Regions from separate parts of the Homo sapiens genome. Here region 1 is linked to region 2. Evidence: fine-mapped expression QTL. Tissue or cell type: whole blood. Region 2 holds a variant in brackets; the other region holds the start of a gene. All regions are shown on one strand. Distances are between the middles of the regions.

What was found. PIP is the estimated chance that this variant, and not a neighbour inherited with it, causes the effect.
Region 1: it holds the start of C10orf143, and the variant in region 2 is fine-mapped to the expression of C10orf143 in whole blood (TOPMed, PIP above 0.99).

The regions. Positions count from the first base shown.
Region 1 is chr10:130,109,595-130,112,346 of GRCh38, forward strand. C10orf143 (chromosome 10 open reading frame 143) reads right to left here and starts at 1,236. Exons shown (of 4, transcript NM_001355042.2): 1 at 1,110-1,236. The coding sequence starts at 1,178. LOC102724883 (a long non-coding RNA gene) reads left to right here and starts at 1,699. Exons shown (of 3, transcript NR_188169.1): 1 at 1,699-2,522. RefSeq lists enhancers at 291-400, 561-740, 1,601-1,930, 2,411-2,540 and a silencer at 931-1,310.
Region 2 is chr10:130,062,438-130,065,189 of GRCh38, forward strand. It overlaps C10orf143 (chromosome 10 open reading frame 143), which reads right to left. Exons shown (of 4, transcript NM_001355042.2): 4 at 1,459-1,946. The coding sequence ends at 1,917. Among named protein-coding and RNA genes, the nearest start is that of C10orf143, 47 kb to the right of the region's middle. The variant A/G (reference allele first, on the strand shown) is at 1,604.

The DNA of each region.
Region 1 (2,752 bases), 47 kb after region 2:
TACCATATTATTACTATATTACTGGGGTAACCTGCACCCTAGTAATATAACAATTGGTACCTGGAGGAGGGGTGCGGCTGTGATAGAAACCTAAGTGGTACTGGCTTCACGGCCAGGCAGTGAGTAGTGAGGAAAGAGATGGTGCAGGGTAGAAAGCTAGTCATTCCCGCTACGCAGTAAAGACATCTAAAAAAATGCTGCCTGTATTAACTGGGAAGACGGATCCTGCACTTACCAAGCCTGTGTAGCTCTAGAAGAAAAAAAAAAGCAAATATGCGGTATGTTGGCTGCTCACTGCTGCCCCTAGCGAGGAACTTTGAAATAAACGAGGTTAAGTAAGAACTGGCCAATTTGCAAGCAGAGGTGGAAGATAAAATACAGGAATGCCAAGCAGCTCTGTCTTCCAGCTCCAATCCTGCAGTACTTCTTTCAGTGCCCCTAAGACGCTAAGCTCCTTCCTCCAACACTGTTTTTTGTCACCTCCCATCCTGCCTACCCCCGGTCATCCTTCAAGTCTCACACATACCTGACTTACCCACGCACCCTGGGATCTTGTGCAAGTCTCCCCATTACCATCTCATCTTACCCTCTGCTCATCAGTTAATGGACTCAGCCCAAGAAGCACTAACACGCTCAATGCCGGGTAATTTTCTGCGCGTGTTCGCTCCCCACGTACTCGTCCCCCAACACCCAGCCCTGGGCCTGGCACGTGGCAGGCGCTCAGTGAACGAGACTCAGGAACAGTCAGGTGTAGACGGCAGGAGAAGACATGACACGGATACCAAGCACCCGAGGTCCTGCAATGAGTCTCGGCCCATGTTTTAGGGAGCCTGGGTCTGGAGCCCCAGTGAGCGTGTGGGTCAGGAAGGTGCCCGAGCTCCGCGCCCGACCGCGCAGGCGCGAAACCGGGAGAGCGGCGTCACAACCCCGCCCTAACAGGCCACGCCCATCACTGGCCACGCCCTCCCAGGGACGTACGCGAGCGTGCGAGTGTCTTGGGCCAGGCCTCCTCACAGGCAGGGCCGCGCCGGCAAAAACGAGGCGCGGTGGGAACCCGCCCAGGGGCCATCCGCCCTCCCGTCCCTAACGCCCAGGCCCCGGGGGCTCACCACGTCCCCCGGAACCTGCAGATCCTCCGCCCTCCGCTGTCGCCAGCGGCCGAGCGCTAAGCTGTCCATGCAGCCCCAGGGTCAAACCCTCCCGGCATCTCAGGCCTGGCCGAGGCCCGCGCACCACGCCCCCTTCCGCACAAGGCCCTGGGGAGCCAATAAGGAGAGGGAGGGGCGGGACGCCGCGGGAAGCGCGAGAGCACCAAGGCGAGGACCGCAGGCAGGAGTAGCAGAGACCAGAGTCTTCTGAGACTATTGGGATGCTGTGGGCGTTGTCCGTCTGCCCCAAGTCATTACTTCGCAGAGAGGTCCCTGCATATCTCTGCTTGTCGCTTCTCCCTTCACAGGAGCAGCCGTGGGGCTCTAAAGAAAGCATTCTTTCAGGATCCCGCCAAACTTTTGACAACACCCCGTGGATCGGCTGGAGGAGCGCCCGCCTCCTCTGTCTTATGATTGGTTGTTAGGCCTCGTGGGGAGCCGTCTCCCTGTGGCTGGTTGGCTAATAGATGGCGCAGCGGGTCAATTAGCTTGAGCGAGACAGCGGGTGTTTCTGGGAGTTGTGGTCCGCAGGGCTGCCTCGCTTCCGGGTGGGAGCTGCTGTTGCCGCGGTGGGAAGACGCAGAGCTTTCAGGCCAGCCCCGCGCGGCTCACGGCTTTTGTGGCTGGTGGCTGGTGGCTGCTGGTTGGGAGGCCCCGGAAGGACTTCTACTCCTCCGTAGGCTGGAGGGCACTAGGAGGTCGCAGGTGCTGAGCTGCCGGGGCCTTTGGGCTGTGCTGAAGGGGAAAAGCGCAGCCACTGTCGGGAGTGTGTGCTGTGGAGGCAGTTGCCGCGGTGATGTTCGCTCCGCCTGGCCCCTGCCGGGGATTCAGCCAACCAACCCTCAACAGCCGGCGGCGGCTCAGTCTCTGGCCCGGCGCGGTGCTGAGCACCACTGAGCCCTCATCTTAGGGCACCGAGGCCCGGACTCCTGCAGCCGCATGTCCAGGCCCCTCCTGCCTTAGCACGGAGCTCCCTTGACTGCTCCAAACAGCCCAGACTGGCGCCTTTTTTGGATAAATTAAAACGGGGCCAATCCGTTGCCAGCGATTGGCTAACGATGGGTACACGACCTAGTACGGGCCAGGGAGAAGTAAGCGAGGTCTGTTGAGGCAGAGTTTCGGGAAAGATCTTCTAGTTAAAAGGGGAGTTGGGTGGGTGGGGGCTGTTTTCTTCCTGTTGTCCTTGCCCAGTGTAAGTTTCCTGGAGCTGCAGCAGCCTTTTTGTCACCATGAGGGCAGCTGGTGGGAACCCTAGGAAAGCAGGAAATCACCTAGAGCCGGAACAGCCTGAGCCTCTGAACCAACCCACAGCTGACTACCCGTCACTTTGTCGTGTCTCTGTGATTTGAGTCCATCATTCTGCTGCAGTTGAAGGTATCCTTTGACAAAGCCCTGTTCTTAACCATTATGGTGAAACGCATGAATCCCTCTTCGGGCTATTTGCTGCATGATCCTCAGCAAATTAAATAGTTAATCTCCCTCAGTTTCCTCATTTATAAAGGATAGGATGATAAAGCATAGAGATCGTGAGGATTACATGAGGCATTTACCTAGAAGATACTTAGAACAATGCTGGACACAAACTAAGTACTTAACAAATGTAA
Region 2 (2,752 bases):
AGCAGGAGAATGTGGAAAGACTAGACTGGCTGAGTCTTCCAGGCTTCCTCTTTCTCCCGTGCTGGATGCTTCCTGCCCTTGAACATCGAACTCCAAGTTCTTCAGCTTTTGGACTCTTGGACTTACACCAGTGGTTTGCAAGGGCTGTTGGGCCTTCAGCCACAGACTGAAGGATGCACTATCGACTTCTCTACTTTTGAGGTTTTGGGACTCAGGCTGCCTTCCTTGCTCCTCAGCTTGCAGACGGCCTATTGTGGGACCTCACCTTGTGATCATGCAAGTCAATACTCCTTAATAAACTCCCCTTCACATATACACTTATCCTATTCTGTCCCTCTAGAGAACCCTAATACACCCACATTCTGGCCAGTTACACCTCATCCCTTTCGTCCTTGTCACCTGGGTCATCAGGTTTTGTGAGCTTTGCTTTTCCAGAACCGAAGGCCTGCTTTGGGGTGGAGGGGCTGTGTACCAGGAGGGAGGGCACTGACACTGAGGAGTCACACTGTGGGCTAAGGGCAAACCCCAAGGGCAACCTCCCCACCACACAGATGGGAACCAGAGGCTCCAAGAAGTCTAAGGACTCATCAAGGTCAGGTGGAGATGGTCGGTGGAGATGAGATGGGAACTCACGTCTGTCTGACTCTGAAGCGGGGGCATTTTCCTTGGGGCAGGAGGATGCCCGGGGACTGTTCTCTACAAAAGCCAGCTTCGTATGAACAGCTGGAGGGACGCGTGCCACGTCAGCTACAAAACACCCACCTGACACCGGGTGGACACCTGCTCTCTCCATGAACGAGGGTGAGAAGGAAGAGTTTACACACAAAAAAGAACATGCTGTCCATCTAAGAGTTTTCTTTTTTTCCCGTAAAAATTAGACGTGTATCTCATTTTGGAAAAGAGAAGAACAAACTAAAGCTCTTCATAAAGATCTTTCGTAAGGCTACAAACGCCAATACCTTCTCCCTCTTTCCCGGCTTTGGTTGTTTGGCACGAACTGGCATTTTTTGATCGAGTCATAGCTCTGGGATCTTACCCAGGCTTAATGAAGACGTGTCCTGTAATTCTGGATCATCCATATCCCAGGTGGTGCTGTACTGGTTTCAACACCTTGTCTTCCTCTGCTCCATCTTTCCCGTATGGAACTCTCCCATGACCGAATGCCATGATGACTTATAGAGGGGGCTCTTCCCACATCAGTGCCGAGGACACTCCCTGGAGGGAGCACATTCCCTGCAGATAACGTGATGCGGACAGGAGCTTACAAACAGGACATCTCAGGAAGCTTTCAAACCCAGAGAAAATAATGCCAGCCTCACAGTCAGACGATACATTGAAAACCCAAGAGAAAATGAGTAATTTCCACTTGAATATAAAAGGGATTCTGTCTCTGATAACTTCAGTTGGGGAACAGATTGGACACTAGCATTTAGTAAAATTCACTCCAAGATTAGAACATTTTAAATATAAAAATAAGCCTTTTAATGAAAGAGTGTGTAAATAGCCCTGGGTACATCCACAAAACAACGAAAAAGCATGATGGCGGGGCTGCGTCTGGGTGGGCCTCCATAGGCCATGAGTGCCCAAGCTCATAGGAAGTTTG[A/G]TACAAAATTTTTTGACTTGTAAATAATGCAATTGATCTCCCTCTCAACCAGGAACATTCGAAAGGAGGCTGTAGTACGTAGTAAGGATTTGGGGGCTCTTTTGAAGTGATGTGGATTCTCCTGGCTCTCGTGCAGAGGATGGTGGATTTACTAGAATGAAAGGACAGACAAACCTCCCCCCACCCACAGAGGACACCGGGCTGCTATTTGAACAGGTAAGTCCCCAAACCCATCTGTAGGAGATTCACATTTGCTGCAACATGAAGGGTTCAAAACCAAAACTGGGACCTTCTTTTTTCCAGCTTGCATCTTCTAATGATTCTTGGTATGGCTAAAATGTCCCTACAAAGATAAAACAGCACATTGCGGGAATTAATTTACCTTGGCCAAATTAATACACCTTGGCTATATATACATTTGCCAACACAAAGCACTACATTTAAAATGACTACTTGTAAGTGATAACTTAATTCCTGAGGTATCTGTTTATAGATATATTAATATATATTACATTATAATTAAGATATTTAAAGCATTTCCAGTAGTGACTGGTACACAGAAGACTTTCAATAAATGTTACTTCCCTTCTTTCCTATAGTACTTTGAGGAATAGCAAGAGAATGAAAATACTATTCATATATTCATAAAATAAATTTTTAAAAAAATGTCTAAATATTGAATCAGGATTCAGCACAAAAGCAACACAAAAGTGGCTCCTCTCACCAGGGACATCCGGGAGTAAGAGAGGCTCACGGCAATCCCCACCAGGGCCCCTCCGGCCCCCAACCCATTTCCTAGAGCAGGCCTCTCATCTCCTCACCTTCACCCGCAGAAGTAACTGGGAGAACCAGATGGCTGGGGATAGACAGTTGGCCAGACACTGTACCACTGTGCAATGAGAGGCTCGTCAGCATCTAGGAATCTCTGTCACACTTGGCCACATATCCTGGCACATAGCAGCGTGGCACTCTGGCCCACAGGCAGAGACAGGCACAGCCTCCCTGTCCTGAAAGGACTCCACCATCAGGGCAACAGGCTCCTGAGCTGGCTGCAGCCCAGGAAGGGTGGGGTAGGCTGGGCAGTGGGGAAACAAAGAAGTCCAGTTCTTGATGATGTCCCTGCTTCCTGGAAGGCAGGGGCTGCCCTGA